Homo sapiens: one gene and its partners. The protein of the gene in region 7 interacts with the protein of the main gene of each other region in a pairwise test. Each region holds a gene or a part of one and is shown on either strand. Other genes may lie near its edges. The genes, in order: RNF4, FYTTD1, SDCBP, ZHX1, PIAS2, U2AF2 and DDX39B.

Region 1 (3,500 bases), on a different chromosome or scaffold from region 7:
GCCTGCCACCACGCCCAGCTAACTTTTGTATTTTCAGTAGTGATGAGGCTTCACCATGTTGGCCAGGCTGACCTTGAACTCCTCACCTCATGATTCGCCCACCTCAGCCTCCGAAAGTGCTGGGATTACAGGTGTGAGCCACCATGCCCAGCCGACCTGCTGATAGTTTGATAAAACAGAAGTTTTACTTTCTGGAATTTCTACTCATTTTATGTTTTGGATGGTTTCTCTCTCCGTAAGCATTCAGTATTCTTGAATCTCAAGTTTTGAAAGGAGCCCTAACTTCAAGTCTACTCGCTGGCTTCTTAATGAAGTGAACCATTTCTATTGCCCATTTAGTTCTTCCTGAAACCCTGACATTCTGGTGTTCATGTGACTCTTCTTTCCCCCTTGCTACTCAGAGAAAGCGTCGTGGTGGAGCAATAAATTCTAGACAAGCTCAGAAGCGAACTCGGGAAGCAACCTCCACCCCCGAGATCTCCTTGGAAGCAGAACCCATAGAACTCGTGGAAACTGGTAAGATTGCCAGGGACACTACAACTGTGGGGTGTTAAAGTGGAGAGAGAACACTGTACCAGGGTGAGCTAGTAGAAGGTGCTTTCAGTGTCTTTAGAAGGCCTATGCAGTCTCACACTCACCATGTACAACTCAAAGCTTCACAGATTCTGAAATAGCTTCTCAACTGGGCTAACTGTTCAACTCTGGTAATGTGCAGCAGTGGGGTAGGATCCATTTAAAAAAAAATCTAGCGCAAATGAGATAGCCCACCTTTTCTATCTGAAACTGCATCCCCAATTGCTGGACCTTGTAAAGTACTTCGCTTTCCTCTTCTGTTTTTCATTAGGACATGAAATCACCCAAGAAGGCAAACTTGTCCACAGAGCTCCCTGTGTTGGAGCTTGGTATAGGCAGAGGCCAGATTGGATTTCCCCTTCTGCCTGCTCAAGAAGTGGTTGATGGCTGGCCTAAGTCCCTTTGCTCTGCATATATTGTTTTTATAACTAGGATACCTGCAAACTGGCATTTTATTTTTACTTATTTATTTTTGAGATAGAGTCTTGCTCTGTCGCCCAAGCTAGAGTGTAGTGGTGCAGTCTCGGCTCACTGCAAGCTCCACATCCTGGGTTCACGCCATTCTCCTGCCTCAGCCTCCCAAGTAGCTGGGACTATAGGCACCCGCCACCACACCCGGCTAATTTTTTGTATTTTTAATAGAGACAGGGTTTCACCATGTTAGCCAGGATGGTCTCGATCTCCTGACCTTGTGATCCACCCGTCTCGGCCTCCCAAAGTGCTGGTATTACAGGCGTGAGCCACTGCACCCGGCCATGCAAACTCGCGTTTTAAACAGAAGAAACTTAGTGCAAGATAAATTTCATGGGCCCCCCAGGAGAAATGAAGTTCTCTATATGGTCTCTGAGTTTCACTTCTACAAATGAGTTCTTGAAAGCCTTGACTTGAGGCTAGGATCCTGGCTCTAGACCAAAAAGGAACGAACTGCTTTCCGTCATGGCACTTGTCATCCTCTAGGCAGTCTTACCCCTGTGTGTACTTAGGGCTGCCCATTAGAGCACTGTTTTGTTTTTGTTTCTGTTTGAGGCAGAGTTTCGTTCTGTCAGCCAGGTTGGAGTGCAATCGCGTGATCTCGGCTCACTGCAACCTCTGCCTCCCAGGTTTAAGCAAGTCTCCTGCCTCAGCTTCCCAAGTAGCTGGGATCATAGGCGCCCACCACCACACCCGGCTAAATTTTTTTTGTATTTTTAGTAGAGACGGGGTTTCACCATGTCAGTCAGGCTGATCTCGAACTCCTGACCTCAGATTATCCACCTGCCTTGGCCTCCCAAAGTGCTGGGATTACAGGCCTGAGCCACCCGCCTGGCCTAGAGCACTGTTTTTGTAAGAGCCCAGAATTGTGTTCACCAGAAAGAGAATGGTTCAATAAATTGTTGTATATCAGTATATGGACTGTTGGACAGCCCTTCTTTTTAATAAAGAATGCAATAATTTTATATAAATTATATTGTATATGTAAGATTATCACGGTTTTTATTCTTGTGAAACTTTATGATACAAGAAAATAAAACAGGCCAGCCAGATTGCTTGAGCCCAGGAGTACCAGACCAGCCTGGACAACATAGTGAGACCCTGTCTCTATAAATAAAAAAATTAGCCAAGTGTGGGAGGCTGAGGTAGGAGGATCACTTGAGCCTGGAACATTGAGGCTGCAGTGAGCCGTGATCGTGCCACTGCACTCTAGCCTGGGCAACAGCAAGACCCCACCTAAAAAATAAATAAAAGAAGTTACGTTGGGTTGGGCGCCATGGCTGGCTCCTATAATCCCAGCACTTTGGGAGGCCGAGGCGTGCAGATCACCTGAGGTCAGGAGTTCAAGACCAGCCTGGCCAACATGGCGAAACCCCATCTCTACTAAAAATGCAAAAATTAGACGGGCGTGGTGGCGGGCGCCTGTAATCCCAGCTACTTGGGAGGTTGATGCAGGAGAATCACTTGCACCTGGGAGGCAGAGGTTGCAGTGAGCCGAGATCGTGCCACTGCACTCCTGCCTGGACGACAGAGCGAGACTCTGTCTCAAAAAAAAAAAGTTAAATGCATTACAAGACACTTTCCCCAAATATTAGACCAATACTGTTTCTTAAAAAACTTCATTTAGTGTTTTGTTGTTGTTGTTGTTTGTTTGTTTTTGAGATGGAGTTTTGCTCTTGTTGCCCAGGCTGGGGTGCAGTGGCGTGATCTTTGCATCCCGGGGTTCAAGCAATTCTCCTGCCTCAGCCTCCCGAGTAGCTGGGATTACAGGCATGTGCCACCACACCTCGCTAATTTTGTATTTTTAGTAGAAACGGAGTTTCTCCATGTTGGTCAGGCTGGTCTCGAACTCTCAACCTCAGGTGATCCGCCCACCTCAGCCTCCCAAAGTGCTGGGATTACAGGTGTGAACCACTGTGCCTGGCCCATTCCGTGCTTTTTAATATTAATATTAATAGTAATCAGAAATAAAAATGGTTGTGCGTCATTTTTTACTTTATATAAATGGAAGTTGTACGTTAACTGTTTGGTCCATGTCCTTCTCACCTTTATCCTGTGCACATGTAGACATCACAGTATACCCTAAGGGCTGAAAGGCAAGCTTCACAACAGATGCAACCCATTTTGTATGTTGAGGTTCTAGCTATCAGTATATATCACTGTTATTCTCCATCCAACTAGGGAGACAAACTTGAGAGATAAATGGAAATTAAAAGTTTGTCCTTGGCCGGGCACGGTGGCTCACGCCTGTAATCCCAACACTTTGGAAGACTGAAGTGGGTGGATCACAAGGTCAGGAGTTCAAGACCAGCCTGGCCAAGATGGTGAAACCCCATCTCTACTAAAAATACAAACAAAATTAGCCAGGCATGCTGCCAGGCGCCTGTAATCCCAACTACTCGGGAGGCTGAGACAGAGAATTGCTTGAACCCAGGAGGCGGAGGTTGCAGTGAGCC
Region 2 (4,170 bases), on a different chromosome or scaffold from region 7:
AAAGCCTAACAAAAATCATACATTTCCCCAAGATAAGACTACTAGGCTTACAAAAAAGTCATGGTTCTTTGAGTTCAGCTGGAAACATAATCTGTGTGAAGACTCCTGGTTTTATCCATGCTACATATACAGGAAACGTTCACATTTACTTTTATTGTTAAGGTGACCGCAAAATTGTCACTGCAAGCTTTGCTTTAAATTCAGGCCTGGAAAGGGGAGCTGGAACAGCTGGCTTTAATTTTTAAGTGTGACATGCATAAGAAATATTTTAAAACATGGGATCCCCAAGCAAAAAATAGTAAATGTGTCATTGGTGTTGAAGTTGGAAGCCACATGACATTGTGACATGACTAAATTAAGCAAAGGCTACTGTGGTTTTGAGATGGCTGGTTTCCATGCTAAAGGAATTTTTGCATTTTATGAATTGGAGAGGAGAAAGGCGACAGAGATTTCTAGGTGGACAGAATGCATCTGGTATTGTCCTTAGATGTAAATATCCGAGATAGTTTTAAGCTGTATGAGGGTGATATAACCTAAACGCTTCCACATAAACGCAGTTACTTCAGGGAAGGAGAATGAGGTAAGAAGAGAGGTAAATACCGTATGTTGTAAACGGAAAAAAGTTATCATGCAGGAATTCATCAAATATTAAACTGTTTTCCCGTAGGGATGATTAAAAAGTAAACGAACCCTTCTATCCATTCCCAATGCAAATGAATTAGAAGAAAATGCAGCTACATCAACAGAGGTACTTACCCCTCCCGAGGGAAGCTGAGGTCTTATTAGGGTAGTGAACACCGTGCCAGATGTTTTGAGAGTGCCGATTGAGAGAAGGTACAGACACGGGAAACGTTAGCATTTACTTTGGAGTTAAGGTGACGCAGGAACCGTCACTGCAGCGTTTGCTTTGCGTTCAGATGCGGCAGCTCAGCGCAGCTGTAGGTGGAGGAGCGTGCCAGGGAGGGGGGAGCTGGGATGCAGCTGCAATCTACACTCGCAGGGGTCTGTCCTGCCTCCCGAGGCTGCGTTGCGGTGGGCGCGAAAGGCTCGTGTGTACCGAAGTATAGGGGACCTGTCTGCAGCAGGAGGGACTCGAAGGACACGGAGGATTATATCACTGAAGGCATAAGATTCAGAGGTGCCCGCGGTCTAGCATCCCCCAGTTTGGGCGGAAAGTCGAACTGCTCACAACGGCGGTCCTCGCGAGCGCCTAGCACAGCGGCTGCAATGCCTCGTCCGATCCTGCGAGGGCCGCTAGGAGCGAGTCACGGCGCGGGGCCGCTCTGGTCGCCCGCGAGTGTCGGTGGCCCCGCCCCGCCCGCAGCCGCGGGTGGAGACCGAGGACGGCGCCGGCGCGTGCGCGCTCCCTCGGTGCGGCGGGCTGCGTGCGCGAGTGGGAGGTGGCAGGCCTGCGACTCCGGCCTTGTCCGCGCCCGCTCTCGGCGCGACGTCTCCAGCCATGAACCGGTTTGGTACCCGGTTGGTGGGAGCCACGGCGACTTCTTCGCCGCCGCCGAAGGCCCGCAGCAATGAAAACCTCGACAAAATAGATATGTCTTTGGGTGAGGGGCCGAGTTGGACCGAGTTGGAGTGCGGGGGAGGGCGCGGGTGGAAGCCGGCGGCGCGGTTTGTGGGGGCAGGGGCGGTCGGCAGCAGTTGCCGGCGGAGTTTTCTCGCTGGTGGGCGGACCCGAGCGGAGGCCCGGAGGACAGCCGGGAGCGCAGGCTCGACGCCAGGTGCCCGGCTGGACCGCGAGGGACCCGGGCGTCCCCTCGGCCGCGGCAGTCGGAGGAGGGGCTGTGGAGGCGGGGGCAGGGGCGCTGCGGGCCCGAAGGTTCGCAGGGTCGCGGGGGGCGTCTCTTCTCCCCGGAGGGGCTACGGCTCGCCGCTCGCCGGCTCTTTGTGAGGAAAGATCTGCCGGTTTCCCCGGAGCGCGTTCGCGGTGGGCGTTATCGGGGAGCGAGGGGAATGGTCCGACCGAGCCGTTCTCTCTGAAGAAAGGTCTTGGAGAGCCCGGCCGGGGCTGCGGTCGGTTAAACCAGCGCTTCCGGAGCTTTCCCTGGTCGCCGGGCGTTCCAGGCCGGCGCCGGCCATGGCTGCCGGGCGCGACTCTCGGGGCCACCTCCGGCCGCGGCCCCGGAGCGTCTGTCAGAAAGGAAGCAGCGCTCGGCCGCCTGTGGGATGTGGTTGTGTATTGAGCGCTGCCTAGAAAAGCACAGTCTCCCTCTCCAGGCCTCAGAGCTAGCTAATGGGGGAGAAAGCAAACATCTTTGAAGGAGAGATGATTGCTGTGGCTCGCTGAGAAGCCAGGTAAAGCGTGGGGTTCTTGAGCGCATCTGAGAGGGTGGCGTGGTTTCTTGCCGATTATATAAAAACCGGGAGGTTGGTGATTCCATTAAAATCCAGCCCTGACACTACCGAGGCACCAGCCGCTGTGGTTAGCTTAGGTGGGCTAAAAGTACGAATATTTTTGTCGGGATTCAAGTGATGGCGTTGGGTGTAAGTCAGCTCTGCCAGGTGTTTGGCTGGCAGTTTTTCGGATATTTGAAAAGTACCTGACTAGTGGATTCCGAGGCGTACCCTTTCCCAGGACGGTCTTTAGAGTGATAACTGTCTTGGAAACCTTCTTTCGGTTTTCATTTCTTCCCATTTGTCTTGTGTGTCTTTTGTTGTGGTTTATCTGGAACGTTTTTGGTTCCAGGTGAGATGGGAACTATTGATTTCTACGATTGCCACAGTCAGAATCCAGTATGTGAACTAAGCAAATGATCAGAAATAATAGGTTTGGCCTCAAGTCTTGCCTTGCTGCTGGTTAGTAGTGAGCTTGTAAGAAATGAGAAAGCTGGGGCTGGGCGCGGTGGCTCACGCCTGCAATCCCAGCCCTTTGAAGGCGGAGGCGGAGGCAGGCAGATGGCTTGAGCCCAGGAGTTCGAGACCAGCCCGGGCAGCAAGGTGAAATCCCATGTCTACTAAAAATACTAAAATTAGCCGGGCGTGGTGGCCGCGCGCCTGTAATCCCAGCTAAGACATGAGAATAGCTGGAACCCGCGGGCGGATGTTGCAGTGAGCCGATTGCGCCACTGCACTCCAGCCTGGGCGGCAGAGCGAGACCCTGTCTCCCCCCGCTCTCCCCCCCCGCAAAAAAGAGAGAGAAACCTTTTGAGGTAAGGCCAACAAATAATGTAATAATGAATATTTATTGAGTGCTTACTACCTACCAGGTCCTGTACTAAGCATTTTATATGTTAACTCAGTTTATCCTCGTCATAACTCTGTGAGGATTCTAGCGATGGAGAGCACGGAACCCAGAACCACATTGTCTCAGTTCAGGTCCTGGACTAAGCATTAAATTAAATTAATTAATTAATTAATTATTTGAGACGGAGTCTGGCTCTGTCGCCCAGGTTGGAGTGCAGTGGTGTGATCTCGGGTCGCTGCAACCTCCGCCTCCCGGGTTCCAGCAGTTCTCCTGCCTCAGCCTCCCGAGTAGCTGTGATTACAGGCACACGCCAGCGCTGGTGGCCGGCTAATTTTCATATTTTTAGTAGAGACAGGGTTTCACCATGTTGGCCAGGCTGGTCTCGAACTCCTGACCTCAGGTGATCTGTCTGCCTTGGCCTCCCCTACAGGCGTGAGCCGCCGCACCCGGCCAGCATTTTATATATTAACTCAGTTTATCCTCATGATAAGTCTGTGAGGGTTGTACTCCTAGTGATTGACAGCATGGAATCCAGATCCACACTGTCTCCTTTCAGGTCCTGCCTCTGCCACTTTGTAACCATGTAACCGTGGGCAGATGATTTCCCAGTGCCTCATCTGTAGAAAGGTGACAGTAAGTAGTGTTTACCACATAGGGTTGCTGAAAACATTAAATGAGTCAGAAGGCATATGTGAACTGCTTAGAACAGGACCTGGTACACAGCACTGTATTTTTCCACATACACTATATATATGTGTGTATGTCTGTATGTATGCTTTTATTTTTATACATACACTATATGTAGTATGTCTGTATATATGCCTTTATTTTTATACATACACTGTATGTGTGTATGTATATATGGCTTTATTTTTCTACATACACTACATATATGTGTATGTATGTCTATGGCTTGGTTATTTTTATACATACACTATATATATGTGTATGTATATATGGCTTTGTTATTT
Region 3 (3,049 bases), on a different chromosome or scaffold from region 7:
AAAACTTTTCCTTTCTGAATATTAGATAATTTTCCCCATATACAATATTACCATCTCCTCTTATTAACTGTGTATTCTAAATCAAATTCTATGAAATGAGGAGGTCATGCTTAAAACTTTTTGACCTTAAGACAGACTTATTTAGGAATTTGTGGAGGAGAAAAACTATAAAAATAAAGTATTAATATGAACCAAAACTATTATTCATTTCCTTATATTCCTGGATTGAGAAATGCTGGGCCACTATTCATATTCTAAATCTTTGTTGCCCATATTTCCACAGAATTCTAGTGTGAGGTACTTCTGAGATCATTTATTCCAGCCCACTTGTTATAGGAACTGTAGTTCTAGATGACAGCCCAAATAATTCCGGTGACTGGCCAGACCAAGAGTTCAGGCCCCACGTTCCCCATCTCCCACCTAAGTCAATATGAAAACAGCGCCACCTAAATACAGTCAAAAGACAGACATTTTCTAAAACTGCAGCAGAACATGGCACAAAGTCTGTTCCTTACCTTCAATCCAATGACATTCTGTCCATTGATTTCACAGATGTTATGTTCCGTGAGAAGACCATTTCTGGCTGCAGAGCTATCTTTCACTATGGATGTTATTTTTCCATTTTTAAAGATAAAACCAACATGTCCAGTGCTATCCTTATGCATGGTAATCGTCCGTTCAAAGGGCCTACAAACATAATTGGTTCAATTAAAAACTTAATTCTAAGCTAAACATTTTAATGGATTTCATATAGCATAAATGTTGCCATATTGGATACTTTTATAATAAACACTGTTTCTAATAAGAGCAACTTATGGCTCTGATTTTATACATTCACGGAACATCTTTGTGTAAAAGTTTTTTTTAAGTTTATTCATTATGGTTTGACTGATTTACTAATCAACATTTCCTTCTTTAAGTATAAAAGACAACTGCTTTATATGGTTTTATCAATATGTTTTTCTTTTATAATTAGACTTTACAGCATTAAGAATGACATAGGCTTTTTAACTAAATCACAGTGGTAAAGATAATTTTTATTTTTTATTAACTTTTGGTATTTTCTAGAGCCAAATCATTTTTAGGACTATTTCTTTTATTTAAAACCTTTAAAATATTTCTCACATCTTGATTTTGAAAATTTTATACATTGCTATCTTTGAAAAGAAAAACTAGAGCAGCAGTAAGACTTAAGTTCCTCAAGCCCCTTTGGAAAGGGAGGCATGCAGCTATTATTAAAAGGCATCCAGCTGTCCCTCTAGAGTTGTTATAGCAGTCACATTTGCTTGATTCTCTATAAACTCTGTTATCATGTTATCATAAGGGTTTTAGGATCAACTTGTGTTTACATTATTAAATTCAGAAGAGGCATTTCTTCCTGTTAGTACAACTTACTCTTTGAAACTCTGCTTAGATAGAAAGTAAAAAGGACATTCATCTGAAACATTTACGAAATACCTAAACTGAATGAGAAACTGGAAACACAAAGATAAAACAGAAGTTTCACTGAGAAGGAACAAAAACTCAAAGCTTACTGTAACAATGCAATATACGTCTACCCTTAATTGGGTATGGAGTAGACAAGAAAATAAATGGAGGCCCCTATTTCATGTGCTAAATGTTTAAGTTCTAAATGAATGAGCTGCTAAATAGAATATTCCATGTTCTTGAAAACTACTGCTTCATAACTACCCAAAAGTCTTGATACGGTTTTCAGAACTCCCATACTACTTGGAAGTCTGCATGGGCTCTGACCCTCACAATGAGGGACCACTGTGTGTGAACACCCTAGGCTGGATGTATCTAAGCAGTAAGTTGGAAAGTGAGCCCAGAGATGCCCTGCAACTCAGTTACTTCTCCAACATACGTTTTCTATTTTCTAGAGAGATTTGTCCTATAAACTCTGAAATAAGGTATCGTATCAGAATGCTTTAAAAACAATGTAAGAAAAATCTGCACCACACAACTGCAAGACTATAAGGCTCATCAATAACATTTGATCATTTTCTGCAACAAAATAATATACTCACAAACTCTGAAAGCCCAAAAAAATGGAAAACTAGTATTGAATTTTCATTTGAGCTGTTTAGTAACAGCTTACCTGTCACGAATGGTCATGGTAATCTTCTCTCCAAAAGCCTGTTTGAGCACCTTGTGCGCTTTATCAGAGCTCCATCCTGCACAGTTTTCACCATTGATCTGAAGTACTTGGTCCCCAAATCTCAGACCAACCAATGAGGCTGGAGAATTAGCCTGGACTAGCTGAACAAATATACCCTAGATAATAAGAAAATAATTTTTGTCATTTACCACTACTATGATACGGTTTTAAACGCTGGAAAATTAGGAAACAACTGTTTATGTTGAAAACTCTACCCCAGTGACAAAAAAGAAAGAAAAAGAAAAAAAGGAAAAACTATATGAGTATATTAAGTTATCACCTCAAAAGAAACTGAAAAATTTATCAAGACAGCAACTCCAAAGAATAAGGCAAAAAAGTGAGATTTCAATGGCAATTTCTATACCAAATCATGACCCACCTGACCAACCACAATCCCCCCCTTCAACTTGGAATACAAAACTAAGGAAAATACAGTAGGACAACTTTAATAAATGCAAGCGTCTGAGTCTGATAGAATACCAAATTATCAGTACATAATCATATTTAGGGGAAAAGCGAGTCACATGTTAGAAAGTTTGATGAGTTCTTTTACAGCTTAATAAATGACAGTTTAAGGTCATAATTCTACCTTTTGAGCTGAAGCATTCCTTTACCCATTTGCTAAATTGTGTATAATCAAGTAAGATTAAAGTTTATTTGTTAGACTAAAAAGATGGGCATATTAAATCCACATGCACAGGCTTATAAAGAACACACAATGAAATAAATACAGAAAACTCAAATACTGTTAACCAATAACTACACTCACATGGATATTTTTACTTATGTAAAATCTCAATCAGAAGTTGAACAAAATATAAATAGGTAAGTATAAAAGAAGAATAAGCCTGGTAAAATATAAGTGCATCTACTTCTACAATCCTAAGC
Region 4 (3,500 bases), on a different chromosome or scaffold from region 7:
AGGTTGGGAGTTTGAGACCAGTCTGACCAACAAGGAGAAACCCCGTCTCTACTAAAAATACAAAATTAGCTGGGCGTGGTGGCGCATGCCTGTAATCCCAGCTACTCGGGAAGCTGAGGCAGGAGAATCGCTTGAACCGGGGAGGCAGAGGTTGCAGTGAGCCGAGATTGCGCCATTGCACCCCAGTCTGGGCAACAAGAGCGAAACTCTGACTCTAAATAAATAAATAAATAAATAAGTATACAAAGGTTATGAAGACAATTTAGTTAAACTAAGAAATGGGAGTAGTTGTATATGTTTATGTGTTAGTACATAAACCTAGTGATATTTGTATCCTAATTTATTATGTTAATCAGAATGGAGAGGATTATTAATGCTGACAACACAAGCCAAAACAAGTTAAACAAACTAGTAGTACTTGATCTACAAACATGGGGTTATCTAACAAAATGACTGGTGTTTAGCCATGTCGTTTTTGCCTGAAAGCTACTACCAAATGGCTTTACAATCAGTGCACTGTGAAGTATTAACATCATGCAATCAAATAAACAGAAAATAATTCTCTGAAAATTCAATTACTGTCCAAATATGTTGTTGTATATAATCTAGATCAGTTAAACCCATCAGAAAAGTTTAATAAAGCTACAATTGCTTTTCTTACTAGAACAGTCATAAATAACACTTTTGAAGGGTTAAAGCATTTTGGTTGTATTCTTTTTTTTTTGAGATGGAGTCTCACTGTGTCGCCCAGCTGGAGTGCAGTGGCGCAATATCGAATCACTGCAATCTCCGACTCCCTGGTTCAAGCGATTCTCCTGCCTCAGCCTCCCGAGTAGCTGGGATTACAGGCACACGCCACCACACCCAACTAATTTTTGTATTTTTAGTAGAGACAGGGTTTCACCATGTTGGCCAGGATGGTCTCTATCTCCTGAGCTCAAGTGATCTGCCCGCCTTGGCCTCCCAAAGTGCTGGGATTACAGGCATGATCCCTAACCGGCCTTTTGTTGTATTCTTTAAGCACTATTCTCTGTAAACTATAATGAATAAATATTAAGGAAGAGTATTTTCCCAATTAACCTTATTTTTTTATTCCTGCTACTATTACATACAAGTTTATGAAGAAACTTCTCACATCAAGAAATAATGTAAATACACCAGTCCTTTAGTAAAATACCTCTAGGTTAGGTTAAAACTTAGGCTGAATAAGTACACTATTTTCATGAAAAGCAAAAGAGCATTTTCCTGGTAGGCCCAGTGGAGCATCTTATTATCTCTGTAGCCTGGGACTCTACAGTTTCATTTCCTGGTATCTCCTTGTTCCGCCACTCGTTAGCCATCAATCTACAGGATGTGGACTAGAAGAGAAGATAGGAAACAGCTGCCAAAGAGGGAAGGTTATTTTCCAAAATGAATTATTAATACTTTAGGAATCTGGTAACCTACTTCAATCCATTCTTAAAATCACACAGTAATTGCAAGATATTTTACCGAATGAGTCTCTTGAGAAGAGCTGCCAAGACATGTAAAGGCACCAGGATACCAGAGGAGCAAAAATGAGCTCATCAGTGCTTTTGAATGAAAATCCTAGTTGCCTGATGTTATTTAAGTTCCTGATACTGGGATTACTTTAGAACATTTCTATCTAATTCAAAGTATTTTTCTTAATTTAGTATGAGTGAATTCCAAAAATTAAAGAGCTCATCTCAGCTATGTACATTATATAATAAAACAGAACAAGCTGTTCTGGTAGTAGATGGATTACAAAAAAAGACTGAGAGCTTGGAATTTGGAACAGACTGGGTTCAAATACAGCATGCCACTTACTAGCTGTGTGACTTTAGAAAAATGGCTTAGCCTATCTGTGCCTCAGCCCCATCATCTATAAATGGGACTGGTAATATTAATAGGATACTATTTACTTAATAGGGTTGTTGTGAGGATTGGAATAGGTAACACGTGTAAAGTTTCTGGAATATTCCTTGGTACTTAGAACACAATGAATGTTAGCAAAGAAATCTTTCTTTAAAATTTGCTAACTGTTGACAAGTGATAAAATACTTTAAGAATCTGGGTAACAACCAACCAACAAAATTTATTTGCCATTTCATACCTCTGAGCATATTAAATCATGCTGGAACAAGTTGGCTTCAAAAGGCAGATACTAATCAATCAAATTTAACCTCTCCCCCCACAAACTTTTTCTGACCTTAGCTTCAAAATAAATCATTACTGTATGACATATTTAAGGGGTATTTCATAGAACTAGCAAACATCTGATATAAGTAATTTTATCATAGTAACGAGGAGAAATTGTTCTCATGATCTTCCCCACTCCCAAGTATAGCCCATGTCTAGCAAAATTTTAACAAACTTCTTTTTAAGAATATTGATGGTAAAAGAGAATAAACTTAGAAGAAAAATATAATTATTAGTTTAGTGCTTAGAAATATCAGAACCTCCTATCTTCTTTCATTTCTCACTAAAAAACAAAAAAGGAAAAGACTTTTAAGAAGGGGAAAAAGGAAGTTAGAAATCTTGAGAAATAGGAAATCACCAAAATTTAATGAAAGAGTTATTTTATTTACAATAATATATGATATGGCTATGACTTCGATATTTTAATTTTGTTAAGATAAATTCTGATAATATTTTTTAAAATCTAAAACTAAGAACTGAAAATTAAAATCTTGCATTAAAAATGATTTATTTGGCTGAGTGCAGTGGCTCACACCTGTAATCCCAGCATGTTGGGAGGCCAAGGCAGAAGGATTGCTTGAGGCCAGGAGTTTGAGACCAGCTAGGGCAACACAGTAAGACCCTATCTCTACAAAAAAAAAAATTAAAAATTAGCCGGGCGTGGGTGACACATGACTGTAGTCCTAGCTACTCAAGAGGCTGAGGAGAAAGGATCGCTTGAGCACAGGAGTTTGAGGGTGCAGTGAGCCATGATCATGCCACTGCACTCCAGCCTGGGCCACAGAATGAGACCCCGTCTCAAAAAAAAAAAAAAAAAAATGTATTCAACTGGCTCCCTTGAATAAACATAATTCTTAAACTGCTCATATATACTTATTTTACAAAGTATATCATCACATTTGTTTAGACCAAAGGTATACAGTCTTACCTCTTAAGTTGGAAACTGATTGTATAAAATGCCAAGATTAAGTATCTTTTAAGATCAAAACCTGGCAACTACATACAAAGTTACATATTAATATTTACTTTAAGAATATCCTGTATAAAATGCAGATCTCCAAAATGTAAACTCAAATGTATATTCTGATTAATAATCTAAGTCAGCAACTTTAGTCATGCAAATCTGGTTATTGATGACTACAAATATATCAGAGCAACAAGGATACAATAAAATTTATCAATAATAGTATAGAAACATTGGCTCTTATTCTAAAGATAGTATCAGTTTTAAAAACAGAACTATAACTTACTTTTGAAACTACGTAGGATTATTTAAAAGGATTTTAAGTTCAAAAAATTTA
Region 5 (3,500 bases), on a different chromosome or scaffold from region 7:
TAAATTTTCCTTTAAATACTACTTCAGTGTTTAAATAATACAGTCCACAAATTTTATTACATTTTTATTTTCATTCAGTTTAAAATCTTATTTTTATCTTTGACTCATGTTTCTTTTGTTTAGTTTCCAAGTTTTCAGGTTTTTCTGGTACGGACTTAATTTGAACTTAATTCAAATACACTTATTTTAAATTTATTGAGACTTCTTTTATTTCCCTTTTCTTCCCTCCTTCCCCTACCCCATTATCCTTTTTTCTCGAAGTTAAAGTTTATAAATTATTTTACTATATAGTAACCTTTATCTGCTGATGTTTGTTTTTTGTGCTGTGTTAGAGGTTGTTCTTACTGCCAGCCTCAGCTAGGAGGCTCCAGGTATCTACTTCTCTCTAGCCATTTATACTCATTGAGTTACACAGGTGATGCTCAGTAAGTTACTTAACTATTATGTTGCCTGTTACAGATTTAAAACATAGGACAAAGGGAGTGTAATAATTGTTGTAAAGTATAAAGTATTGCAATACCAAAAGAAAAGGGGGTCAGCTAACATTACTTATGTTTTCAAGGTAATGTGTATTACTTTCTTATTTCACCTTTAGGCAAAGCTGTTGATCACATGTATGTACTTCTTAATTGTTTTTTAGGCTTTTTATGGAAATTCTCAATGACTGTTCTGATGTAGATGAGATCAAATTCCAAGAAGATGGTTCTTGGTGTCCAATGAGACCGAAGAAAGAAGCTATGAAAGTATCCAGCCAACCGTGTACAAAAATAGAAAGTATGTGTAGAATAGCAGCAGAGAGTAAAGCAGTGAGACTCGTGCAACATTATCATTAATCTTGGCCCCTAGAACTATACGTTTGGAATTCAGCTTGTTGACTCAGTCTTTTGATGATATATAGTTTTCCCCCAAATGATTTTTATTCTTTCCTGAAGGAATGTGCTAAAGTTTATACCATCTTATCAGCTATTTCATAGTATATTTTTCCTGTGTAGAATAAAGGAAACATTCATCTAAAATCATTTTAAAATATGATGTTTGTTACAAAACAAAAAGTCACAAATGAATTTATATGGACAGTTTTTCAGAATTGTTCTTAGAGTATCTGTAGGTGGAACCCTAGGTGGAGGTGAGGTTAGAGAGGCTGCATCATTGGTTAATGGCCTTGGTGGTTTGGGGATGGTCACAGGTTAGTTGCTCAGAAAGTAAACAAATTGTTACCTTCCATTTCTTTGTGGAGAAGAATTTTAACATTGCCTTGATTACCTAGAATGTATACTCATCCATCAACTGCCTGCATCCATCCACACTAAGTAGGGAAACTGAGGGCATTTGGAGTAATTGAAACGCACAGGTGAACTTAGAGTTTCTTTTTATCTAACAGTCTCATTGAAACCCACACGTGAACTTAGAGTTTCTTTTTATCTAACAGTCTACTCACTGCATTTCAGTTTTGTTCTGATTACATTTGAAGTTCTAACAAACAATGTAATGAATGGAGTAAGAAGAAAGGGGAAAAAATAAAGGATTTATGCCATTATTAATTATTCCTCTGCGATTGACACTAAACCTGAGTGCAGTGACCAAGGTTTCTCTCATCTTTCAGAAAAATGGGGAGTGATTTAGTTGATAAGTTTCTGTTGCTTTTCCATTATCAACTGTCATTCATTTTTAACTAAATACATTACAGATAATAACATACTTTTCTGTGAAAATGTGAGTTAACAAATATGGTATGTGAGACTGTCTTTGTGGGTAGAAAGAACCTACGTGATTAGCAGATAATTCATAAGAAAAGTTTAAATGTCTTAGTAACTTAATTGAGAGGTTTGGGTTTTTTTCAACTTATCAAGATGAAAGTTTTTATCAAGTTCTGGCTTATGGTGAAAAGTCTGTACTTTCTTTGATATAAGCATAATTGCTAGAATGGAAATATCTGGTTCTGAGCTAACTGTGCCACATGTGTGCGAGAATACATAGCTGTTGAACTCACCCATTCTTGTCCCATGACCTGAGACCAGTTCCCTAACTCTGCGTGTCTTTCTGTAAAACGACTGCTGACCTGCAGAGACAGGATGAGCAGTAGGAGCTGCACAAATCCTTCAGTGGTATTGGAGGCATAACTAAGAACATTCTGTCTGAATGAGACTTCTAACCATCTGTCAAGGAATAGTGCTCACCTGTCTCCCTAGGTGAACAACCATTTTACAGACAGAGGTCTGGAGTTAGGGAGTTGGTATTTGTCCATGGGTTGGAGTATGTGGCTTCACTGGCTATATGTTGTCAGGAACATACTATACTGAATATACTAGACTCTACCACTAGAGTTTATTTGTGTTATACCTTTAATTTTTTTTTCCTTTTGTTTCTTTACATGCAGGTTCAAGCGTCCTCAGTAAGCCTTGTTCAGTGACTGTAGCCAGTGAGGCAAGCAAGAAGAAAGTAGATGTTATTGATCTTACAATAGAAAGCTCTTCTGACGAAGAGGAAGACCCTCCTGCCAAAAGGAAATGCATCTTTATGTCAGAAACACAAAGCAGCCCAACCAAAGGGTTTGTTAATTTATAGTTCACTATTGTTCATTACCCTTGCAACTAATTGCTCTTGGATAGATTTATAAATGTCTCTTTGGGAAATGGCATAACTGTAGAAGGCTATTTTAATTTGCCTTTGTTGAGTTGAAATATTTTCGAGTAAGCACATTGTTTATAGGAAGCAAATTTTGATGGAGAAAATATTTACATCTTTGGAAAGTGAGCGTGTGAGGTATTTATTTCCTACCTGAGACTTTTTGTTATTTTCTTGAACCTGTTTGTAAGGAAATTTGGCATCTCAGACCAGATGAGAAAGTCTGGTGTAATGGAGTGTGGAACTGGGAATCTGACAAGTATGGATTCCAATTTTGGCACACCATCGCTTACTTGTTCTGTGATCTTAGATGAAATACTTAATTTGATTGAGCCTCTTTTTTGTGTTCTGTTAAATGGAGCTAAATAACGCCTATATTACAGGATCATTTTCAGGTTTTAATGAGATGAAAGAAAGCCTCGGTGTCAGGCATGTGGTAATTTCCCAATAAAAATTGATTCCTTTCCCTTTTCACCCTCTCCAGGGCAAAATATAGGTGGGTAGGATGGCATTCTACCTGAATTTTAGCGTGGATTCTCTGTAAGTTATCTGGCAGAAGGCATTACTGACCTGCATTAAAAATCAGGTTTGGGTATTTAACAATAGTTGCTTTTTCAGAGAGGTTTTGAACCATAAAAGGAGATAACAGGAGAGTTCTCCTGGCTGTCTACGAACACATTCTTTCAAACTTGGGTTTGCTAGTGTCATCTTTTTGGCCTCTTGGTCCACTTGGTTTTCTAATGGCTTTACTGAGTTATAATTTACATAGCATAAAATGTACCCATCTTAAGTATATAATGGCACAATTCAGTGATTTTAGTAAATACATAGAGCTGTGCAATCATCACCATGATTCAGTAGTAGAATATTTTCAA
Region 6 (3,500 bases), on a different chromosome or scaffold from region 7:
ATGATGGAAAAGCACTGGGCTGAGCGCAGTGGCTCATGCCTGTAATCCCAACACTCTGGGAGACTGAGGTGAGCGGATCACTTGAGGTCAGGCGTCGGAGACCAACCTGACCAACATGGTGAAACCCACCCTCTACTAAAAATACAAAAATTAGCCAGACATGGTGGCAGGTGCCTGTAATCCCAGCTGCTCGGGAGGCTGAAGCAGGAGAATTGCTTGAACCCTAGAGGCGGAGGATGCAGTAAGCCGAGATCGTGCCACTGCATTCCAGCCTGGGTGACAGAGCGAGACTGTCTCAAAACAACAACAACAACAAAAAGAAAAGCACTGGAGGCCAGTGAGGGACCTAGCCCAAGTCCTGCCTGACACAGATGTGCCTCCGTCTGGGGCTCCACATCGCCTGCCCTGAAGAGCTGACTCAGTTCCTAAAGGGCTCCTCGAACAGTGAGTACCCGCCAGCAGAACCCCACCTCCTCCATGTCCCAGGCCTGAGACACAGCCGCACCCTGACAGGGCATCAGACAAGCCCTCCCTCAAATCCCATTCATCAGCTACAAGGGTCAGCCAACTATAGCCTGTGGGCTGACAGGGCCCATCACCTGGTTTTGCACATCCTGCAAGCTTTCTAAAGGGAGACCATTCTGTGGCCTGTGAGAAGCACAGGAAAGCCCAACCTCAGCAGCCACGCGTGTCGAGGTGTGCCGGCACACAGCCAGGCCCACGCACGCAGACACCGTCCGGCTGCTTTCACACACAGTGACATGGTCGCCAACCCCTGGTCTGCTATGTTACCTACCAATTACAGATGATGTTCAACACAGCTATGGGGAATGGCCCAGAACACAAGATTCAAGGCAAACACTAGGAGACAAAAACAAGTGAATACCCAGGTGCCAGACCCCACAGCAGCAGCTTTGCTGCCAACCGTCGACACACAGCAGCCCCGACGGGCACAGACTGAGCCCTCCAAGGTCCCACAGCCGCAACGCAGGCACGAGGTCCAGGCCACAAGCCCCTCGCTTCCCCAGCACCTTTGGTCTGATCCTGGCTCTGCCACGTACAAGCTGTGTGTCCTCAGCAGGTGACAGCTCATTCTCCCGGCCCTAGGCACCTTCTCTACCAGCAGGAGAGCACCCCACTCACAGAGACTTAGGGGAAGCAGGGAAAAGGCACCTATCTTCCACAGTACTTACACAACTTCCTAAGCCACTCCAGCTGGGCTGAAGGGATGGACAGGCCATGGGAACAGGACTGGGGGAGAAAGGGGCCCTTAATGGATCCCCCACTCACCAGGCACATAGACGGAGGGGTTCTCTGACATGCCAGGAAGCGGCTGGTAGTCGTGAGGCCTGCGGATCTTTAGTGACTGGCCCTGGAAGATGATGCCATCAAAGGCCATAGCCTGGGTAGTCTCGTCCACTGAGCGGAACTGAATGAAAGAGAAAGGAGTGGTGAGGGATGGGGGTCAGGGACTAGTACAGCCCCTAGTGTTCCAGGATTGGGATTTCCTCTTTCCTTTCACTCATGTGAACAAATACAACATGCCAGGCCCCAGGCTGGGCACTGGGAGTACAACAGACACGCATGTCCCTGCTGCCAGGAGCTCACACTCGACCATTAAAAACACCAGGCACCCAACACAAACACAGAGGCAAACACACAATTGCAGGCTGTGATGACACGGAAGAGGGACAAAGTGCTGAAAAGGGATGTTACGGGAAAGGTTAGTTGAACGGGGAGATGACAGTACTGGAGTCTTTCTGGTGAGGGGGACATTTCAGCCCATCTCCGGAGCAATGCAACTGCAAGTGGACTGCAGTGAGGCAAAGACAGAGTGAGAGGGACAGAGTGAGAGGGAGTGCTCAGACAGTGAGAGGGAGTGCTCAGAAATCTCTGCAGTAAGCTAACACTGCCCACACCTTCACAATACTTCATGAGAGTTATCAGTCCACCAAGAGTCGAAAATCAAAAACCAAGGCCTTTTCCCGACAGTTGAGAAACACAGACACAGAAGACTAGTTAGGAACATCAGTTAGCTGGGGTAACAGAAGACTAGTTAGGAACATCAGTTAGCTGGTGTAAAGAACTCTAGCCAAGCAGGCAGGAGCATGGTAGGTTCTGGGAAGGTCAGTGTGGCCAGAGTGCAGAGAGGACTGGGCCGGAATGGTCTGGAAAAGGCCAAAGAGGTCTACAGAGGCCAAACAGGCCTCTCAGGTCACACAGAAAGCAAATGGAAGGCAGAAAGTAGGATCAGATCTGTAATGCTATAACAGGGCTCACTTCAGCGACCGGGTGGAGAAGAGGCTGCAGAGGGCCTGGTGGAAACAGCACAAGGCAGCTCCACACAACATCAGCCTAAGGGCTGGGCCCTCACATCACACACGTTTCCTGGACCTCACTCACTCCCCCAGCTCACCTCCAAAAAGGCAAAATTCTTGTCCTGGTTAATCTGCACAGCCAACACTGGGTTGCCAGGGGCCTGGGTCAGCCCCCCCAGGCGCATCTGGGCGTTGAAGAAATCCATCATGGCCTCCTGCAGAGGGAATAGGAGACAAGGGGGGGGGCGGGGGAAGGGAGGTGGAGAGAGGAGGGGAAGGGTGAGAGAGGGAGACACAGAGGGGTTTGGGGGTAAGGGGAGAGGGATGAGGGGAGGGAGGAGGGGGGGAAGGAACAGTGGAATATGGGTGGGGGTGTAGAAGTCAATAGTAAGAACAGAAGCAAGAGAGAAAATGGGGAGGAAGCAGTAGCAAGAGACGGCCAAGGGCAGGCGATGGACAGGCGTTGGGGGACAGCCACAGGGGCCCCAAAAAATCAGGGGAAAGGAGAAGATTGTTCAAGAAAAGGCAGAGGGCATGATGACAACACAAAATGAAGAAAAACACGAAACACAAGAGATGAAGAGACAGAGCACACAGGAAGGGCCACCCAGTGGAGACAGACAGAAAAGTGGCAGGAAAGTAGAAAGGAAGTGGCAGGCAGGGGCAGAGACGAGCAAAGGACAGAAAGGGAGAGCAGGACAGAGACGAGCGAGGAGGAGGAAGTCAAGAGTGCAGGGGCAGGAGAGGAGGAGTGTAGGGAGGAGGGGCAGGGACGGGAGGGGAGGAGAAAAGAGTGATGTGGAGGAATCTGGCCCTGGAGTCCGGGGGCTGGTTTATCAAATGTAGCAAAGTGCAGGTTGAGAAAGTCAGAATGGACCTTACTTGCCTTCGACGATGGTAGCAAACTTTTTGTTGCTACGAGGGATCTCAGCCCCACAATATTTCACTTTAAAGAGAAATGGAAACAACTCTTTGATCTCGGGATTCTCAGGGGGTGCCACAGGAAGGGGTTGGGGAGAGGGGAGAGGGAAAAGGAGTGGTGGGGAAGGGGGAGGTCAGGGGCGATCAAAAATAAAAGAACAGCGACCATGGGAGGGACGTGGGGGAGAGGATAGGGGACAGGCGGCAGAGAACGAGAGGCGTGTCAGAAAAAAACTGAGGGGCAGCGTGCGTCTGTGTGTG
Region 7 (3,500 bases):
TCTGTCGCAAGCGTGGGGTTCATGATTTAGATCACATAATTGAAGTCATTTATTATCGGCCCAGGTGTGTTTTTGTGACAGTCACTTCCCTAGAGGGGATAATGAAGAGCTACATTTACCATATGTCTCCGTCTACTTCCTGCCTAAGGTGTCTGTACTGGTGATGTGTCACACTCGGGAGTTGGCTTTTCAGATCAGCAAGGAATATGAGCGCTTCTCTAAATACATGCCCAATGTCAAGGTAAGCCAAGGTAAAGAGACCTGAGAGTGAGGGTGTGGCAAGTTGGAGGGATAAGAAACTTGTAGGCCAATAGTCTCTTTAATTTTGGAGAAGCTTTAGTTTGCTGTGGTGTAACAGAGTGTTGAGTTCCTATGTAACAGGAGGATTCGTAATTGGGCTATGGATGATGCTTAACACAAGACCACCCTTTTCTTACTACTTTATACTGACTTTGAATCATATCAGTTTAATAATTTTGGGGTATGTGGCAGAGAAAGCCGGAAACTTTAAAACAGCTCCAGTGGTGTGTGAATATTGAGGATTCTGGCCAAGTGCACAATGGCTTACACCTGTAATCTCAGCAGTTTGGGAGGCCAAGGCGTGTGGATTATTTGAGGTCAGGAGTTTAAGACCAATGTGGCCAACAGGATGAAACCCTCTCTCTACTAAAAATGCAAAAATTAGCCGTGCATGGTGGCACACACCTATAGTCCCACCTGCTTGGGAGGCTGAGGCAGGGGAATCGCTTGAACCCAGGAAGCAGAGGTTGTAGTGAGCTGGGATTGTGCCATTACACTCCAGCCTGGGTGGCAGAGTGAGACTCCCATCTCAAAAAAAAAGAAAAAATCTGATTGAAGTTAAGCATTTTTGGCAAGAATCCTTCATAGGTGATACTGTATCTCCTGTTATGCCACAAATCTGGTCGACTTATGTTAGTTATTTTATTTTATTTTTATTTATTTGTTTTGAGATGGAGTCTCGCTGTGTCCCTCAGGCTGTGAGTGTAGTGGCGCGATCTCAGCTCACTGCAACCTGCGCCTCCCACGTTCAAGCGATTCTCCCGCCTCAACCCCCCGAGTAGCTGGGACTACAGTGTGCCATCATGCCTGGCTAATTTTTGTTTTTTTTTAGTAGTGACAGGGTTTCGCCATGTTGGCCAGGCTGGTCTCGAACTCCTGACCTCAAGTGATCCACCCACCTCGGCCTCCCAAAGTGCTGGGATTACAGGAGTGAGCCACTGCACCTGGCCTCATTAATGATTTTAGATTTACCATAGGATTAGCGTCGTGACAGTCTGATTCCACAGTTGTTCTTTTCCCCCTTGAAACCAGAAAGTAGTTTCTGGTGTTATTTGATACTGTACCAAGGCCCAGATCCCCAAACAACTATTCACCTAATGGTTTTAACATGAAATGATAATATTTAGCCCGAAGCAGTAATTTCATGGGGTTTGTGTGAAAAGAGTTTGAGATTCTGGGTTTATTTAGGAAACCTTAATGTTCCATGTGTTTTTTGTGGTACTTTACACTAATCTGGTGATTTCTTGCTGTCCTTTATTTATTTATTTTTTATTTTTTGAGATGGAGTCTCGCTCTGTCATCCAGGCTGGAGTACAGTGGCTCAATCTCGCCTCACTGCAATCTCCACCTCCCGGGTTCAAGCGATTCTCCTGCCTCAGCCTCCCGGCTAAATTTTGTATTTTTTGTTTTTTAGTAGTAAATTTGTAAATTTTGTATTTTAGTAGAGATGGGGTTTCACCGTGTTGGCCAGGCTGGTCTTGAACTCCTGGCTTCAAGTGATCCACTTTCCTTGACCTCCCAAACTGCTGGGATTACAGGCGTGAGCCACTGGGCCTGGCTTTATTTTATTTTTATTTATTTTATTTCTTTTTGAGATGGAGTATCACTCTTGTTGCCCAGGCTGGAGTACAACGGTGGGATCTTGGCTCACCACAACCTCTGCCTCCCAGGTTCTCGTGCCTCAGCCTCCTGAGTAGCTGGAATTATAGGCGTGTGCCACCACACCTGGCTCCTTTATTTTTTAAATGAAGCCTGGCCTCATAAATGAAGGAAGTTGGTTAGATTAAGTCAGTAGAACTGAATTATTGTCCTGACTGCTCCGACTAGCCATGTAACTTTAGGCAATCACCCTCAGTGTTTGGTGGGGGGGACATAAAATTTTTAAATTAGGTGCCCTCTAAAGTTAGTTTTAGTTTGGAAACATGCTAAAAATTGGTTTAGCTCAAACAGAGTGGGAACCCTGGGGGGATTGGACTCTTTCCTTCCTCTGTTTTGAGACTCTTTGCTTCTGGCTCGGCAGGTTGCTGTTTTTTTTGGTGGTCTGTCTATCAAGAAGGATGAAGAGGTGCTGAAGAAGAACTGCCCGCATATCGTCGTGGGGACTCCAGGCCGTATCCTAGCCCTGGCTCGAAATAAGAGCCTCAACCTCAAACACATTAAACACTTTATTTTGGATGAATGTGATAAGATGCTTGAACAGCTCGGTGAGTGGCAGTGCTGGGGCTTGGCTAATGCTGGGGAGTTGTTCTTTGGAGCCAAATGATGTTTATTTGAAACAGGAGCACCTCAGTGCAAGGACGACTCTTATCTATCACCCATGACTGATGGCTCTGGGTTCCCTGGTTGGTCTTTATTATGCTTTTAAGCACAGTAAAGGGTGTCATCTATCATCTTTCTATGATTTTTGTTTTTAACCTTTGAGAATAGGGGACTTTGATAATTTTAGGCATAAGTCATCACCACCACCACCGTTTTCATTATAGATTCATATACTGGGAGTCATAGCGGAGATTCTAAACTGAAAGAGAAGACAGTACCCTTCTGGCATCTCCAGCACAGCATTTACAGTCAGAATTTATAGCTGAATAAGTGTCTAGACTCAGGTCTGGGATTAATGTAGAGAGTGTTTGTAGCAGTTTGTGTGATGTGGTATTCTAGTGTGCCAGGTGGGGTTAATGGAAGATTTTTCTGTAAGAATTGAATCTTGGTGAATGAGAGTGGGGTTGGACATAGGCCCCATAAGTCATTACAAATGATCTTTGGCAATTCTATATGGTGAGCTATAAAGGTGGGCTCCAGGTAGGGATGTCATATTTGCCTGACTTGATAGAAAAGTAATCCAGAGAGTCATAGATGGACTCTGATATCTGGAATATAATATGTGCTTGATATTTGTAGTCTGCTGAAGGCTGGCTGGGGCTTGGGCAGGAAAGGGTTGGGAGAAGGTCCCATAAAGCATGTTTTGAAGGCCTTGAGAGCCTCTGCACTGGGCTTTATCCCCATTTCATAGTTGGGAACTTTGGGGTTTTACCTTATTTCTTGCTTGGTTAAAACAAACAGCTGGAATCTGATCCCACTTCTTGATTCCAAGTCCATTGCTCTTTCCATTGTGTTGTTACTATTTCCAGCAATCTTCACCTCACTGGGAAGTCTACCTCTAATCTTTGTTTATCATACCTGCTTATTTTCTCCTACAATTT

What was found.
Region 1: the proteins of DDX39B (region 7) and RNF4 interact in binary tests that used the Homo sapiens proteins (3 or more experiments, as listed by UniProt).
Region 2: the proteins of DDX39B (region 7) and FYTTD1 interact in binary tests that used the Homo sapiens proteins (3 or more experiments, as listed by UniProt).
Region 3: the proteins of DDX39B (region 7) and SDCBP interact in binary tests that used the Homo sapiens proteins (3 or more experiments, as listed by UniProt).
Region 4: the proteins of DDX39B (region 7) and ZHX1 interact in a two-hybrid assay, tested with the Homo sapiens proteins (one large-scale study listed by IntAct).
Region 5: the proteins of DDX39B (region 7) and PIAS2 interact in a two-hybrid assay, tested with the Homo sapiens proteins (one large-scale study listed by IntAct).
Region 6: the proteins of DDX39B (region 7) and U2AF2 interact in binary tests that used the Homo sapiens proteins (3 or more experiments, as listed by UniProt).

Annotation. Positions count from the first base shown.
Region 1 is NC_000004.12:2,496,606-2,500,105, forward strand, and holds part of RNF4 (E3 ubiquitin-protein ligase RNF4), read left to right. Parts: intron 1-401; coding exon 402-516; intron 517-3,500. UniProt on the Homo sapiens protein: E3 ubiquitin-protein ligase which binds polysumoylated chains covalently attached to proteins and mediates 'Lys-6'-, 'Lys-11'-, 'Lys-48'- and 'Lys-63'-linked polyubiquitination of those substrates and their subsequent targeting to the proteasome for degradation.
Region 2 is NC_000003.12:197,748,513-197,752,682, forward strand, and holds the start of FYTTD1 (UAP56-interacting factor), read left to right. Parts: upstream 1-1,370; 5' UTR 1,371-1,459; coding exon 1,460-1,562; intron 1,563-1,734; exon of another isoform or gene 1,735-2,310; intron 2,311-4,170. UniProt on the Homo sapiens protein: Required for mRNA export from the nucleus to the cytoplasm. Acts as an adapter that uses the DDX39B/UAP56-NFX1 pathway to ensure efficient mRNA export and delivering to the nuclear pore.
Region 3 is NC_000008.11:58,577,261-58,580,309, reverse strand, and holds part of SDCBP (syntenin-1), read right to left. Parts: intron 2,278-3,049; coding exon 2,102-2,277; intron 688-2,101; coding exon 516-687; intron 1-515. UniProt on the Homo sapiens protein: Multifunctional adapter protein involved in diverse array of functions including trafficking of transmembrane proteins, neuro and immunomodulation, exosome biogenesis, and tumorigenesis.
Region 4 is NC_000008.11:123,267,787-123,271,286, forward strand, and holds part of ZHX1 (zinc fingers and homeoboxes protein 1), read right to left. Parts: intron 1-3,500. UniProt on the Homo sapiens protein: Acts as a transcriptional repressor. Increases DNMT3B-mediated repressive transcriptional activity when DNMT3B is tethered to DNA. May link molecule between DNMT3B and other co-repressor proteins.
Region 5 is NC_000018.10:46,827,008-46,830,507, reverse strand, and holds part of PIAS2 (E3 SUMO-protein ligase PIAS2), read left to right. Parts: intron 1-640; coding exon 641-774; intron 775-2,377; coding exon 2,378-2,549; coding exon of another isoform or gene 2,550-2,565; exon of another isoform or gene 2,566-3,500. UniProt on the Homo sapiens protein: Functions as an E3-type small ubiquitin-like modifier (SUMO) ligase, stabilizing the interaction between UBE2I and the substrate, and as a SUMO-tethering factor.
Region 6 is NC_000019.10:55,661,535-55,665,034, reverse strand, and holds part of U2AF2 (splicing factor U2AF 65 kDa subunit), read right to left. Parts: intron 3,265-3,500; exon of another isoform or gene 3,205-3,264; intron 2,534-3,204; coding exon 2,417-2,533; intron 1,430-2,416; coding exon 1,291-1,429; intron 1-1,290. UniProt on the Homo sapiens protein: Plays a role in pre-mRNA splicing and 3'-end processing. By recruiting PRPF19 and the PRP19C/Prp19 complex/NTC/Nineteen complex to the RNA polymerase II C-terminal domain (CTD), and thereby pre-mRNA, may couple transcription to splicing.
Region 7 is NC_000006.12:31,535,504-31,539,003, reverse strand, and holds part of DDX39B (spliceosome RNA helicase DDX39B), read left to right. Parts: intron 1-148; coding exon 149-241; intron 242-2,320; coding exon 2,321-2,504; intron 2,505-2,554; exon of another isoform or gene 2,555-2,630; intron 2,631-3,500. UniProt on the Homo sapiens protein: Involved in nuclear export of spliced and unspliced mRNA. Component of the TREX complex which is thought to couple mRNA transcription, processing and nuclear export, and specifically associates with spliced mRNA and not with unspliced pre-mRNA.